2 separate regions of the Homo sapiens genome follow, and region 1 is linked to region 2. Evidence: fine-mapped expression QTL. A gene starts in region 2. The other region holds a variant in brackets. All regions are shown on one strand. Distances are between the middles of the regions.

Region 1 (8,329 bases), 100 kb after region 2:
GTGAATTATAAAAAGGATAAGTCCAAATACAAGCTGGGCTTTGTAAGGTTCTTGTGCAATGTAAATTTTTTAAATCTTTAATTAGGTCAGGTGGTTTTCAAAAAAAAAACTTCAGTAGCCATGGTGGAATCCACAAACATCCTTCCCATCTCCACACAGCACCACCCTTCCTTATCCTCCTCCTTCCCATGGGGAACCTTCTTCTGCAGGTCTCAACAAGCCTACTTGTTGAGCCTACAGAGCTGCCACTTCCTTCACTGTCTAGGCTCCTCGGTCAGTGACTGGCCAGGGATGGGCCTGCTCCATATAAACAATGCTATGGAAATACACAATGTAAGAAGTAGAAGTCCCTGCCAGCTCTTGTCTGCCCTCCCCCCAAACCAATTCTACTTCTCAAAGGTAACCTCTGTCAAAGTCTGGAGCATAAACTTTCTGTTATTACCTATACAATAATAATTGCCACCACAAAGCACTATGTGTCAGTCACTGTACTAAGCACTCTACATATGTTATCTCAGTTTACCCTTGCAACAAGTCATGAGGTAGGTACCATCAGGATGCCTATTTTACAGATGAGAAAACTGAGGCACAGAGAAATTGACACACAACATGCATAAATACAAACATGTTTTAGAAATACAATGGTTTCATGTTAATGTGCTGTTCAGCAATTATTTATTTCCTCTTGAACATCTTCCCACCTCAGGGCATACAGATCTATCTCAATCTTTCAGTACCTCATAATATTTCATTCTGTAATAGTTTAAAACCTATTTAACAAGGCCCCTGTGGATGATCATGTAGGTTGCTTTTGCTTCTTCACTGTTATGAATAAGAATGGAACAAACATGCTTGTACTATTGCCTACCTGGGGCGGGGTGCATCTACGGCATAAATTCCTAGAAGGAGCATTTCTAGTTTAAAAGGCCTATGCATTAAATTTTTAAATAGATATTCTGAGATTTCCCTCAAAAAAGTCACATCCATTTATATTTGAATCTTTCTCCACATTCTTGTCAGTAATAAGCATTATTTTTATTTTTTCCAATCTGATAGATGTGTGAAAATGGTACATTATTGTTTTAGTTTTCACTCCTTTAATCATGAGTGAGGTTGAGCATATTTTCAAATATGTGTTGGCCACTCAATACATTTACTTTTTTTTTATTCTGAGACAGAGTCTCACTCTGTCACCCAGGCTGGAGTGCAGTGGCCTGATCTTGGCTCACTGCAGCCTCTGCCTCCTGGGTTCCAGTGATTCTCCTGCCTTAGCCTCCTGAGTAGCTGGGATTACCGGGGCGTGCCACCATGCCCAGCTAATTTTTTTATTTTTATTATTATTTTTTGAGACGGAGTCTAGCTCTGTCGCCCAGGCTGGAGTGCAGTTGCGCAATCTCGGCTCACTGCAAGCTCCATCTCCCGGGTTCACGCCATTCTTCTGCCTCAGCCTCCCAAGTAGCTGGGACTACAGGCATCCCCCACAATGTCCGGCTAATTTTATATGTATTTTTAGTAGAGATGGGGTTTCACCGTGTTAGCCAGGATGGTCTCGATCTGCTGACCTCGTGATCCACCTGCCTTGGCCTCCCAAAGTGCTGGGATTACAGACGTGAGCCACCGCACCCGGTCACGCCCAGCTAATTTTTGTATTTTTTTTTAGAGATAGGGTTTCACCATGTTGGCCAGGCTGGTCTCGAACTTCTGACCTCAGATGATCCACCCTCCTTGGCCTCCCAAAGTGCTGGGATTACAGGTGTGAATCACCGTGCCCCCTGGCCACATTTACTTTTTTTTTTTGAGACAGAGTCTCGCTCTGTCGCCAGGCTGGAGTGCAGTGGTGCAATTTTGGCTCACTACAACCTCCACTTCCTGGGTTCAAGCAATTCTCCTGCCTCAGCCTCCTGAGTAGTTGGGACTACAGGTGCATGCCACCACACCCAGTGAATTTTTGTATTTTTAGTAGAGGCGGGGTTTCACCATGTTGGCCAGGATGGTTTTGATCTCTTGACCTTGTGATCCACCTGCCTCGGCCTCCCAAAGTGCTGGGATTACAGGCATGAGCCACCACACCCAGCCTGCCTATTTTTTCTTTTGGTGAAGAATGAGGTCTCACTATGTTGCCCAGGCTGGCCTCAAACTCCTAGCCTCAACCTATCTCTCACTTCTGCCTCCCTAACTGCTGGGGTTACAGGTGTAAGCCACCGTGCCCGGCCACATTTATTTTTTTAACGACATTTATAAATTGTTTATTATCTCTACAACTTACTTTTTTTTAAATTATACAAGGACTTTCTGAATATCATGTGTAACTCCTTGTACAATTGGATTTGCCTCTCACAGCAGCTGTCCTTTCCTGGTGTCTGATTCTTATCCAGATCTCATTAATATTCTTTCCAAACAAAAATGCCGCTTGACTATACAGATGAGTGCCTCGTTTCTGCGGGGTTCCCTTTTGCAGGACACCCACCCCTGACTGCTCATTAATATTCTAAGCAGAGCACAACCCTGTAAGAAGCCTGACGGACACTGACAGCCCAGGCATTGAGAGAGGATCACTGCTGCTACCCTCCACCACCCAGTCTAGTGCTTTCAGATAAGGGTGGTACTCTGAGTATCAGGATCACCTATGGAATCTGAACCTCTCATATGGAGTCCAAACATGTTAATTTTTGCAGACCCAGACCCTAAACGCTCACCATCTAGACAGATAATGTCAGAATCAGGTACAAGTTTGAACCCCTTAAGCATAAGCCTGAGGATTGGTTATTGAGTACTGGCCATATGCCAGGTGCTTTACATGTTATCTCATTCCATTTGATCTTATTCACTTAATTCTTACACTGCCATGAAGCAATTATTATTATTATTATTATTATTGTAAGAGACAGGGTCTTGCTATGTTGCCCAGGCTCGTCTTGAACTCCTGGGCTCAAGCGATCCTCCCACCTTGGCCTCCCAAAGTGCTGGGATTATAGGCATGAGCCACCACACTGGGTCAGCAAATATTTATTATTCTCATTTTACAGAGGAAGAAACTAAGGCTCTAGAAATGTTCAATAACTTGCTCAAGGTCACAGAGCTAATAACTGATAGAGCTAGGATTTGAAACAATCCCACAGACCATAATGTCCATGTTCTAATGACATATTACAAACCACATCTTCCCGGTATTTAGGGGCTGTCTGGACCGGTCTTATCCTTTAAGAGTCTTGAAACTAGGAATATTAAAGGCTGGGCCAGATGCCCCAGCCTATTCCACATCTAAGCCAACTCTACCCAAGGCTCCTTTTGGCTCAAGTCTACATATTGAGTCTACCACACACTTACTGGGTAACATGAGGAAAATTACTCTAAGCCTTAGTTTCATCATCACTAAAATGTTCTCTTAGCACATTGCTAAAATAAGTACTTAATAATGATAGCAGTGGTGGTAATAAAAATACCTAACATTTATTGACCATTTACCATGTGTCAGATACTGTCTTAATTGTTTTGCATATATAACTTATTTAATCTTCACAGTAACACACTCAGAATTATTACCGACTCACTTTATGTAAGTGTATTATTGAATAATATTCAGATGAAGAAACTGAGGCCCAAAGAAGTTAAATAAATGTTAGCTCTTTTCATTTTTTAGGAGGTTGGCCTGGAAACAAAATGATCTGCAGCACGGAAAATAAACCAGAAAAGCAGTTCTAGCGTACATGATATTTCAGGGTCAGCTTATTTCTGTTAAATCACCAATAAAAAGAGAATATCTCTAATGTAATAATATCTGAGAAACTGATGGTTACTACCAGGAACACCAGATCTGATCAAAGACCTGACACCATTTCTCTGCACCATAAAGTCTAAATC[G/A]GTAAAAGTTATCTCTCTTAAGGATAAAATTTTAGGAGCGGGCGCAGTGGCTCATGCCTGTAATCTCAGCACTTTGGGAGGCCGAGGCGGGAGGATCACCTGAGGTCACAAGTTTGAGACCAGCTGACCAACATGGAGAAACCCCGTCTCTACTAAAAATACAAAAAATTAGCCGGGTGTGGTGGCACATGTCTGTAATCCCAACTACTTGGGAGGCTAAGGCAAGAGAATCGCTTGAACCTGGGAGGCGGGGGTTGCAGTGAACTGAGATCACACCATTGCACTCCAACCTGGGCAACAAGAGCAAAACTCCGTCAAATAAAAAAAAAAAAAAAAAAAAAATTTAAAAAGGCTAGGCACGGTGGCTTATGACTGTAATCTCAGCACTCTGGGAGGCCGAGGTGGGCGGATCACCTGAGGTCGGGAGTTCAAGACCAGCCTGACCAACGTGGAGAAACCCCGTCTCTACTAAAAATACAAAATTAGCCAGGTGTGGTAGCACGTGCCTGTAATTCCAGCTACTCGGGAAGGCTGAGGCAGGAGAATCTCTTGAACCCGGGTGGCAGAAGTTGCGATGAGCCGAGATCGCGCCATTGTACTCTAGCCTGGGCAACAAGAGTGAAACTCTGTCAAAAAAAAAAAAAAAAAAAAAAAAAAGGGATAAAATTTTAGGTGTTATCAACGCATCAACACCTCTGTAAGAACTCTAAGTTGGGCCAGGCACAGTGGCTCACGCCTGTAATCCCAGCACTCTGGGAGACCAAGGAGGATAGATTGCTTGAGTTCAGGAGTTCAAGACCAGCCTGGGAAAAATGGCAAAACCCCATCTCTACAAAAAGTACAAACAAATAAGTTAGCCAGGTGTGGTGGCTTGAGCCTGTAATCCCAGCTACTCAGAAGGCTGAGGTGGGAGGATTGCTTCAGCCTTGGAGGTGGAGGTTGCAGTGAATCCAGATCACGCCACTGCACTCCAGCCTGGGCAACAGAGTGAGACCTTATCTCAAAAAAAAAAAAAAAAAAAAAAAAAGAACTCTATGTTGAAGAGAACATAACTATAACCTTCCCACAGGGCTTCTATTACCTTATTCATTTGTGTGAATATCTTATCTTCTTGTGCTTATGAACCCCAAATTAGTTTTTTACATAATTGTGGTAATCTTCACATATCTTATTTAGACAGGTAAAAAAGAGTAACCCCAGTTACAGCCTTTGAAAACTGACTTTGGGCACCTGTAATCCCAGCACTTTGGGAGGCCGAGGTGGGCGGATGACGAGGTCAGGAGATCAAGACCATCCTGGCTAACACAGTGAAACCCCGTCTCTACTAAAAACACAAAAAATTAGCCGGGCGTGGTGGCGGGTGCCTATGGTCCCAATTACTCGGGAGGCTGAGGCAGGAGAATGGCATGAACCCAGGAGGCGGAGCTTGCAGTGAGCCGAGATCGTGCCACTGCACTCCAGCCTGGGCGACAGAGCGAGACTCCGTCTCAAAACAAACAAACAAACAAAAAACTGACTTTGGGCCAGGTGCTGTGGCTTACGCCTGTAATCCCAGCACTTTGGGAGGCTAAGGTGGGAGGATCACTTGAGCCCAGGAGTTTGAGGCTGCAGTGAGCCGTGACTATGCCACTGCACTCCAGCCTCGGCGACAGGGCAAGACTCTATCTTGAAAAACAAAAACAACTGACTTTGGTCTAAAATTTGTAGGTCATGAAGAACCACCCAAGAACTTTCCTAATCTTTTTTTTTTCCCTTTAAATTAAAAAATTACCAGATCAAATTCAAGTCTAACTCCACCTCTCTCCCAATTAATAAAATTTGTTATTTGCTCATTTGGTTCTTTCCCTCCCCGTCCCAGCTGATCATTAACTTATTCTAAGGGCAAACATAATCCAACGAAGTGAGGTTTTCTTATTTTTCCAGTAGTTTTTTTTCACACATAGTAAGAAAAATCTCTTTCAGTAAGTAGAAAAACAGATCATTAAGTCACTAGCTTCAAATTTAAGGTAAAGAGTAGAGAAAAACATAGCTAATTAGAAAAAGAATGTGGAAATTTACAATTGACCAAGACCATCACGACAAAGCACAGACTTCCTCTGAACAGCATATTTCTCCTTTAACCTTTGTACCTTTCCATACTTTAACATCAGATGTACTGAATACCAGTGCCTGGAACATGTAGGGGCTCAATAAATATCTGTTATATGAATGAAAAACAGTGTTACACTAGTACTGAATTGCCACACATCTCAGCAAAGGCCCACCTACATAACTGAAAATCTGCCGAGAAACTACATGCTCATAAGTCTTGCCAATTACATGCTTAATTAAGGCAAAATAGTTCATTAAGGAGCCTTCTTTACAATCTCAAAGCAAAAGAAACACATACGCTTATTTTAGGAAGGCTCCTTCTGTTAAAGATATAACCTTCTTAAAGCAGCCCTTTGTCCTTAATAACTAATCAAGTTTTCTCCAAATACAGGGCTTCTTAGTTTCACTTCTGGACATTTCCAGGAAGGGCCTGGCTTCCATTCTTATCTGAAATTTTAGATGATGTGCTGTTTTTCAGGACTTGCTCAATCTGAAGAGTCAGTTCAGATCAGTTTAACCAATACCTTCAAGCAGGAGAATTAAAATGGATTTACTAAAAAGTGACTCTTCTCTAGGCAAGTTCTTTAATCCTTCCTTTCTTTAAAAGAGAAGCTGGCCGGGCACGGTGGCTCATTCCTATAATCCCAGCACTTTGGGAGACCGAGGCGGGCGGATCACCTGAGGTCGGGAGTTCGAGATCAGCCTGACCAACATGGAGAAACGCCGTCTGTACCAAAAATACAAAAAAATTAGCCAGGCATGGTGGTGCATGCCTGTAATTCCAGCTACTCGGGAGGCTGAGGCAGGAGAATTGCTTGAACCCGGGAGGTGGAGGTTGCAGTGAGCCGAGCTCGTGCCATTGCATTCCAGCCTGGGCAACAAGAGCGAAACTCCGTCTCAAAAAAAAAAAAAAAAAATCTGAGCAGCTACCACGTAACAATGCCTTAATAAAGGACAAGCATCACTGAGGCTGATCACATAAAGATGTACCAAATCACACCGCCACACAAGTGATAAAATTTGGCTACTTATCTGGACCAGTGCTAGGTATCTTATTAAGAATTGGTTATAGGGCCGGGCGTGGTGGTTCACCCCTGTAATCCCAGCACTTTGGGAGGCCGAGGCAGGCAGATCACGAGGTCAGGAGATCGAGACCATCCTGGCTAACATGGTGAAACCCCTTCTCTACTAAAAAAAATACAAAAAATTAGCCGGGCGTTGTGGCGGGCGCCTGTAGTCCCAGCTACTCGGGAGGCTAAGGCAGGAGAATGGCGTGAACCCAGGAGGTGGAGCTTGCAGTGAGCAGAGATCACACCACTGCACTCTAGCCTGGACAACAGAGCAAGACTCTGTCTCAAAAAAAAAAAAAAAGAATTGGTTATAAACATTTTTTTTTAAGAGGGAGCCTTACTCTCTCTCCCAGGCTAATTTTTGTAATTTTAGTAGAGACGGAGTTTTGCCATGTTAGCCAGGCTGGTCTCGAACTCCTGACCTCAAGTGATCCGCCAGCCTTGGCCTCCTAAAGTGCTGGGATTACAGGCGTGAGCCACCACACCTGGCCTGGTTATAAACATATTAATGTTACTGTTTCAATTGAATTTTAATGATTAGCTTCTAAAAGCTACATTTAATTCGGGACTGTAGAAAATAGTTATTGAGAGGCATTTGCTGGGTAGTGGTCTTTCAGTTGGCAGGGGAAAGATCATCACTGTCTTTGGGCCTCAATTTCTTCATCTCAAAAACAGGTATTGATTCACACAGGATGCTTATGAGGACTAAATGAAAGGATAAAAGCAAAAGTACTTTGAAAACTGTCAGCTACTCTACAAAGCATTATTTTAAATAAAACTTCAAGCCAGCATTAAGAAAAAAAATGGAATTAAAAAAGACTAACCAATGAAAAGAAATAGAAATTAGAACTAATTCATTATAATGTCTGGTTCAACTAGATGTTAATAAGAAACCTTTTGTTTAAAGCTGTTGCTGAAAATCTTTCTAATCAGTACACTGTCTAAACAGTGTGTCTAAACAGTAACACATTTCAGAGCATGTGTTAATAGTAAGTATAATGAAAATCATTTCATTTTTTCTTGAAGATTCTAGATAGCTTTCTAATTTTTCTCCTAGAGAATGAAAACAGAAGAAAACTTCTGGTTGTTTGTGGATTCCAGTAATTGGGTTTTAGTTTTGCCACACTGGCTTTTGAAAATGTAATAGGAGTTGATAGACTAGTATAATCCAGAGTAACAATCTGGGAAGTAGATGGCTATAGTGGTAGGAAAATAGTGGCCTGGATCCTGGAAACACCTTAGAAAACTTGCACTCAGATGGAACTTAATCCTGGTTGTCACAGTATCCAAACTTTTGTCCTGCTACC
Region 2 (8,280 bases):
TACGCGGGGCTATTTTTGTATTTTTAGTAGAGATGAGATTTCATGTTGTTAGCCAGGCTGGTCTCAAACTCCTGACCTCAAGTGATCTGCCTGCCTCGGCCTCCCAAAGTGCTGGGATTACAGGTGTGAGCCAGCATGCAAGGCCATGCCCCGATATTTTTGATATGCCTTCTATTGCATTCTACAAGTGGCTCTAGGCCAGGGGCAGTGGCTCATGCCAGTAATCCCAAAACTTTGGGAAGCTGAGGCAGCAGGATCGCTTGAGGCCAGGAGCTCAGGCCTCTACAAAAATTTATTTTATTTATTTTTCTGAGACAGGGTCTCACTCTATCACCCAGGCTGAAGTACAGTGGTTTGATCACGGCTCACTGCAGTCTCAACCTCCCGGGTTCAAGCAATCCTCCTGCCTCAGCCTCCCAAGTAGATGAGACTAGAGACTATAGGCATGCACCATCACACCCAGCTAATTTTTAAATTTTTTTGTAGAGACAAGGTTTCACCATGTTGCCAAGGCTGGTCTCAAACTCCTAGGCTCAAGTGATCTGCCCTCCTCGGCCTCCCAAAGTGCTGGGATTACAGGCATGAGCCACCATGCCCAGCCTCTACAATTTTTTTTTTTTTTTTTGAGACAGAGTTTTCCTCTGCAGCCCAGGCTGGAGTGCAACAGTGTGATCTTGGCTCACTGCAACCTCTGCCTCTCCAACTCAAGCAATTCTCATGCCTCAGCCTCCTGAGTAGCTGGGATTACAGGCATGTACCACTATGCCCAGCTAATTTTTATATTTTTAGTAGAGATGGGGTTTCACCATGTTGGCCAGGCTGGTCTCGAACTCCTGGCCTCAAGTGATCTCCCTGCCTCGGCCTCCCAAAGTGCTGGGATTACAGGTGTGAGCCACCATGCCCCGCTCTCCCAATTTTTTTTTTTTTTTTTAATTAGCTGGGCATAGTGGTGTGCACCTATGGTCCTGGCTACTTGGGAGGCTGAGGTAGGAGGATTGCTTGAGCCAAAGAGGTCGAGGCTGGAGTGAGCTTCGTGCCACTGCAGTCCAGCCTGGGTGAGGCTGAGACCCTGTCTCAAAAACAACAATAAGAGTGGAGTGGTCTATTTTCTTTATGGAAGACCAGAACGGTAAAAGAGGAATTGGCAAGTCAGCAGTGAATTATATTACTGAGGTAATGGGTCTTAAAAGAAACAAAATAGCAAGAGTGCTTCTAGGGTTAAACTTTCCTAAGAGCAAACATGAGACAAACAAGGTGCCTGTCTTTACTAGCCAAGAATTATCATACTAGAATGCTTTCAGCTCAGTATTCCCATCCACCTGTACTCCTCTGACACTGGAGCACCATAGAAACACTCAGATAGAATTCCCACAGGTAAAGGATCCCTTCCAGCAGCTCTGCCAGGGGATATATGTCTTCAGCCATCTGAGGGAACACTTTGGAATCTCAAGAGATACGTAAGTTTATATAAAATGGGTGTTTATAAGCAACAAAACTATTTCCTCTTACCACTAACATGGGGAAATTTCCATATTGGCACATATTTATATGAAAAGCAGAGATGTTTTTCTATGAAAATCACCTTTTAAAAAAAAATTTGTCCTGACTTGTGTATTTTCCTTTGTAGTGATTACATTGCCTTCCTCCTTTTTTTTTTTGGCCCTCATATACAGAGACTATGGAAGAGAGTACCTGGATCTAGTTTATTCCAAAGACAGACAAGCAGTTTGTGCCTCCACTCCAGGATGACTAACTACAACGATTACACGTAAAAAGACAAAACAAGGCCGGGCGCGGCGGTTCACGCTTGTAATCCCAGCACTTTGGGAGGCCGAGGCAGGCGTATTACGAGGTCAGGAGATCGAGACCTTCCTGGCTAAGACGGTGAATCCCCGTCTCTACTAAAAATACAAAAAATTAGCCGGACATGGTGGCGGGCGCCTGTAGTTTCAGCTACTCGGGAGACTGAAGCAGGAGAATGGCGTGAACCCGAGAGGCGGAGCTTGCAGTGAGCTGAGATCGCGCCACTGCACTCCAGCCTGGGCGACAGAGCGAGACTCCGTCTCAAAAAAAAAAGAAAAAGAAAAAGAAAAAAAAAAAAACCTTGCTACACTAAGTTCCTGAGGGCCAAGGAAAGCCATTTAGATCTTTGGGTTTCATTTGCTTCACTTAAGCATCTTTATTTTTGCACTTGAACGTCTGGCAGAGCATTTTGATGATGATGATGCACAAATACTACGAATAAATGGATGCGTGACTAGCTAAATAGAACACAAGATTTTGAAAGACTTGAGTCAAAAACAGTAGGCAAATCAAAGAAGCAATCCCAAACAGATGCTATCTTTCAGAAATTAACAGATTATTTCACCTGCAACATATTCCCATCCTAGAAAGGGCATTCCTGCATTACAATCATTTATGCTTGGATAAAGGCAAAACGAACAGATGTCCAAGAACCACCCTCATTACCTGAGGCCTATGGCAGAAACATGTCTCCTTTCTTGGAGTCTGAGTAGACTTGATCAAAATCACCCACAGGTATAAATTCACATTATAATATCACACACCAAAGCCTCAGTGAATATCTTTATCTTGGACAAACATATGATCCATTCACTTAAAGGTGAAATCATGTGGTTGAACAAAGTATACTGCAATTCTGCTAAACTCATTTAGAAGCTGGCTCAAGGCCGGGTGCGGTGGCTCACGCCTGTAATCCCAGCACTTTGGGAGGCAGAGGCGGGCGGATCACTTGAGGTCAGGAGTTACAGACCAGCCTGGCCAACATGGCGAAACCCCGTCTCTACTAAAAATACAAAAAGTAGCCGGGCGTGGTGGCGCGTGCCTGTAATTCCAGCTACTCGGGAGGCTGAGGCAGGAGAATCGCTTCAACAGGGGAGGCGGAGGTCGCGGTAAGCCGAGATCGTGCCATTGCACGCCAGCCTGGGCAACAAGAGCGAAACTCTGTCTCAAAAAAAAAAAAAAAAAAAAGAAAAGAAAAAAGAATCTGGCTCAATATAGCTGTCCTCTGATAAAGCCCTGTGGCTCTCCTCCATCCCTTCGAACACACTCCTCCTTCCATTTCAGGCCCCAAGGCCTGTTCTGCAACTAATCTGACATCTTTCCATTACTTTGGAAGCCTAGGGCTCCACCACACCCTATCCCAACCAGATTTCTACCCTCCTACCAACAAACGTGCATGAGTTGACATACCAAACCAACTCTTAGGGCCAAACTAATCCTGTTCCCCCCAATTCTCGGAAACTCAAGCGTCCTAACAAATCTTAAGAGTCTGATGAGTCCATTCCTTTCCCTTGGAACGTCTGGCCCTTGCGTTGACCCCTCGGCTTCCATGGTCACAACTAGCTCTGGTTCTCCTGGCCCCTTCCTATCCCTCTCTTCGGGGCCTCTGCCAGAGCTCACACTGAACCTGTTTCCTCATCTGTAGGACCCTTGGAGGTTGGGAGGAGGCCTATATGACCCCCCCAATCCAACTCCGGATCTAACATTGAAGGGGCCCAGCATTCCCCTAGACCCTCACTCTTTCTCTTGCCCACGCCCCAAACTCCTTCTCCATCTAGGCTACCACCTCGCCCACGCGCCTAGCATCACCCGCCGCGGCCCAAGCTCCCCCAGCCCCTGCTTCCGGGCTTTCCTTGCAGTTCTGCTTCCGGCCCTCGGCCCTTCCCACAGCGGGGCGCCCCCGGCCCGCGCCCGGCCCCCGAGCCGCTCGCTCCCGGGCTCTCACCGCTCGAAGAGCAGCCTCACGAAGAAGATGCCCGCCGCCAGCGGGAACACCGAGAGGATGTGCCGGCCGCGGGGGTAACCGTAGCCGTCGGCCGGCCCCTCCAGATCAGCCCAGCTCACGTTCTCGGGTAGCCAGAAGCGCTCGCTCCACAGCCAGCCCCACAGCAAGCTTAGGGGTCCCTGCGCTGCTGTCGCCATCTTACGCCCACCCCGAAGCCACCGCCGCCACAAGCGTCAGCTGCCGCCACAGCCAACGGAACCCGCGGGGAGGCGGCCCCAGGGCGGGGCCCGGCCGGCGGCCACCCCCTTCCGGCCCCTTCTGGTCACTGCCACGGATCCGCCCGCCTCCCTGGCAGGGCCGGGCCTCTTCACCGCCCATCTCTCCTCCCGGCCCACTTCCCTCACTGCAACCCGGGGACCGCCTCCGGGGATCCACGCCCCTTCCCGAGCCTCTGACTCGCCCAGCCCGGCCCTGGGACCACGCCTCGGGCGGCCCTGGGCCCGCCCTCTTTTGCTGCTGGTCTAGGCCACGCTTCTACTCCTCCCTCACTCTTCCATCCAGCTACGGCCACACCCCTTATTTCAGGCCTAGCTCCTTTACGGGGACATTCTCCTTTCTCAGCCTGTTGGAATCGAATCCGTTCCGGCTCCCACCCAGGCGGTACCTCTGTCTCCACTCCCGGAGGCCAGATCGATCTCTCAGGTCAGGGCTTCTCTTGGATGTCAGCTGGTCCTGCCCACTACTGTCCGCCACTAGAGTTCTTTTCGCTCCCAACCTTTTCTTCCCTTCGTGCCCCGTGACCTCAGCCTACTTTCACTGCTTTATCCCTTAAAAATTAGTCACTTTTCCTCAGAAAAAATGGACTTAACAGTTTACAAAAGGCCGGGCGCGGTGGCTCACGCCTGTAATCCCAGCACTTTCAGAGGCCGAGGCTGGCGGATCACCTGAGGTCAGGAGTTCGAGACCAGCCTGGCCAACATGGCAAAACCCCGTCTCTACTAAAAATACAAAAATTAGCTGGGCCTGGTGGCGCTGTGCCTGTAATCCCAGCTACTCGGAAAGCTGGGACAGGAGAATCGCTTGAACCTGGGAGGCGGAGGTCGCAGTGAGCCGAAATCGCGCCATTGCACTCCAGCCTGGGCGACAGACCAAAGACTCCGTCCCAAAATAAAAATAAAAAAAGTTTACAAAAATCCTTTTATTCTTCTCTTGGGGAAAAGGAAATGGAAGAAAAACAAAGTGAAAAGGGAAGCACTCAAAAAGTATACGTAAAGGCAGGCCGGGTGTGGTGGCTCACGCCTGTAATCCCAGCACGTTGGAAGGCCAAGGCGGAAGAATCACCTGAGGTAAGGAGTTCGAGACCAGGCTGGCCATGGTGAAACCCCGTCCCTACTAAAAATACAAAAATTACCCGGGTGTGGTGGTGCATGCCTGTAATCCTAGCTACTCGGGAGGCTGAGGCAGGAGAATTGCTTGAGGCGGAGATCACAGTGAGCCGAGACCACGCCATTGCCCTCCAGCCTAGGCAACAGAGCGTCTCAAAACAAAAACAAACAAAAAAAGGCCGGGCGCGGCTCACGCCTGTAATCCCAACACTTTGGGAGGCCGAGGCGGGCGGATCATGAGGTCAGGAGATCGAGACCATCCTGGCTAACACGGTGAAACCCCATCTCTATTAAAATACAAAAAATTAGCCAGGCATGGTGGCGGGCGCCTGTAGTCCCAGCTACTTGGGAGGCTCAGGCAGGAGAATGGCGTGAACCCGGGAGGCGGAGCTTGCAGTGAGCCCAGATTGCGCCACTACACTCCAGCCTGGGCGACAAAGTGAGACTCGTCTCAAAAAAAAAAAAAAAAAAAGTATATCTAAAGGACCTAAAGGCAAAACAAAATAAATAGCCAATGTTTGATGAGGTTTCCTGTGTGCCAGGCACTGCATGGAACATTTTACACAGGTTATTTCACTCCTTCACCCTATAAAGTTGATCTTGTTATCCCCACTGGATAAGTAAACTGAGGTCCAGTGAGGCCAAACAACTTGCCCAAAGTTATGTAGGTAAGAAGTGGTAGCTAGTGTTAAGTCAAGTTTAATCTAAAGCTGCCTCCTTACATATTTAAGTTCGGCCTAAAGGTTTTCTGTACATTGTGAACTGTAACAAGTGGAGGTGTAAATCGAACGTAGACCACACCAGTGCCAATCACTGAATTTTGGCCAATCAAATGTAGCCAACTGTTCCAACCACGTTCAAATGAGACAAACGCTGATCTGTAACCAATCTGGTTGTTTCTGTACCTCACTTTCATTTTGCTGTCCATAAATCTTCCACCACGTGAATATGCTGGGTCTCTGTGGATATGCTGGGTCTCTCTGAATCTGCTGTGATTCAGGGGCTGCCCAATTTGAGAATCATACATTGCTCAAACTCCTTTAGGCTGGGCACGGTGGCTCACGCCTGTAATCCTAGCACTTTGGGAGGCCGAGGCAGGCGGATCACAGGTCAGGAGATCGAGACCATCCTGGCTAACATGGTGAAACTCCGTCTCTACTAAAAATACAAAAATTAGCTGGGCGTGGTGGTGCGTGTCTGTAGTCCCAGTTACTTGGGAAGCTGAGGCAAGAGAATCGCTTGAACCCAGGAGGCGGAGGTTGCAGTGAGCTGAGATAGCACCACTGCACTCTATCCTGGGCAACGGAGTGAGACTTTGTCTTGGAAAGAAAAAACAAAACAAACAAACAAACAAAAAACTCCTTTAAATTTGGCTGTTTTGTTTGTTTGCATGTTTTTTTGTGAGAAGGAGTCTCACACCCAGGCTGGAGCGCAGTGGTGCCATTTCTGCTCACTGCAACCTCCACCTCTGGGTTCAAGAGATCCTCCCTTCTCAGCCTCCCGAGTAGCTGGGACTACAGACACGTGCCACCACACCCGACTAATTTTTGTATTTTTTGATAGAGCCTGGGGTTTCACCATGTTGGCCAGGCTGGTCTCGAACTCCTGACTTCAAGTGATCTGCCTGTCTCAGTATCCCTGTTGGGAATGAAGTTTTTGGTGTTGCAAAAAGAAAAGAAAAGAAAACAAAACAAAAACAAAAAAACACGGGAACAAATGATCTCTCAGCAAGGAGAGCTTTACTTTCTGCAGAAAGGGTGCTGCTACTCAAAAGCTGTCTAGCCATGAGAGCACACCGAACAAAGGAGACAGAGTTATTTATAATCTGAGGTGTCTACCCTACTGCTGTGTCCATTTTCCATTGGCTGGAATAGGACCTCACATTTTACACTTTACCTGATTGGCTATTAGTTTAAAACTTTTAAAATTGGTTAAGGGGAACAGAACAAAGAAAGAAAAGGAAGTTGCCCAGGGATCATTAAGGAAGCATCACCAAATAAGGAATGGCATGCACTGTGGGCTGGGGCTTGTCTAGTTCTGTCCAGGCATGCAGGAGCAATCTAGGACAGCTGATTTGGAATACACACACACACACACACACACACACACACACACACACACATACATACACACACACACACACACACAGTGGATAGCAATCTTATAGTAAGAAATTGTGACTTTTTATAATCTTTGAAGAACTTTCCGATTTCTCACACTCCCAAAGTGCTGGGACTACAGGCGTGAGGCCACTCCGCCCAGCCTAAAGTGTTTTTTTTGTTTGTTTGTTTTGTTTTGTTTTTTGTTTTTTGTTTTTTTTTGAGACGGAGTCTCGCTCTGTCGCCCAGGCTGGAGTGCAGTGGCGGGATCTCAGCTCACTGCAAGCTCCACCTCCCGGGTTCACGCCATTCTCCTGCCTCAGCCTCCCAAGTAGCTGGGACTACAGGCGCCCGCCACTACGCCCGGCTAATTTTTTGTATTTTTAGTAGAGACAGGGTTTCACCGTTTTAGCCGGGATGGTCTCGATCTCCTGACCTCGTGATCCGCCCGCCTCGGCCTCCCAAAGTGCTGGGATTACAGGCGTGAGCCACCGCGCCCGGCTTTTTTTTTTTTTTTTTTGAAACGGAGTCTCGGTCTGTAGCCCAGGCTGGAGTGCACTGGCGGGATCTCGGCTCACTTCAGCCTCCGTCTCCTGGATTCAAGCTATTCTCTCCCCTCAGCCTCCCGAGTAGCTAGGATTACAGGCAGGCTCCACCATGCCCTGCTAATTTTTGTATTTTTAGTAGAGATTGTGTTTCGCTATGTTGGCCATGGAACTCCTGACCCAAGTGATCCACCCGCCTGGGCCTCGCAAATGGCTGGGATTACAGGCTTGAGCCACCACGCCCGGCCGAATTTTTTTTTTTTTTTTTTTTTTTTTTGAGACGGAGTCTAGCTCTGTCGCCCAGGCTGGAGAGCAGTGGCGCGATCTCGGCTCACTGCAAGCTCCGCCTTCCAGGTTCACGCCATTCTCCTGCCTCAGCCTCCCTAGTAGCTGGGACTACAGGCGCCCGCCACCACACCCGGCTAATTTTTTTGTATTTTTAGTAGAGACGGGGTTTCACTGTATTAGCAGGATGGTCTCAATCTCCTGACTTCGTAATCCGC

Evidence for each region. PIP is the estimated chance that this variant, and not a neighbour inherited with it, causes the effect.
Region 1: its variant is fine-mapped to the expression of CERS5 in tibial nerve (GTEx, PIP above 0.99).

The regions. Positions count from the first base shown.
Region 1 is chr12:50,265,742-50,274,070 of GRCh38, forward strand. All of the region lies in intron 1 of LIMA1 (LIM domain and actin binding 1), which reads right to left. Among named protein-coding and RNA genes, the nearest start is that of LIMA1, 14 kb to the right of the region's middle. RefSeq lists a silencer at 7,390-7,569. The variant G/A (reference allele first, on the strand shown) is at 3,862.
Region 2 is chr12:50,163,353-50,171,632 of GRCh38, forward strand. CERS5 (ceramide synthase 5) reads right to left here and starts at 4,017. Exons shown (of 10, transcript NM_147190.5): 1 at 3,749-4,017. The coding sequence starts at 3,945. LOC124902931 (a long non-coding RNA gene) reads left to right here. Exons shown (of 2, transcript XR_007063304.1): 2 at 1,674-2,271. RefSeq lists enhancers at 3,364-3,503, 4,394-4,553, 4,605-5,366 and silencers at 3,644-3,793, 3,894-4,293.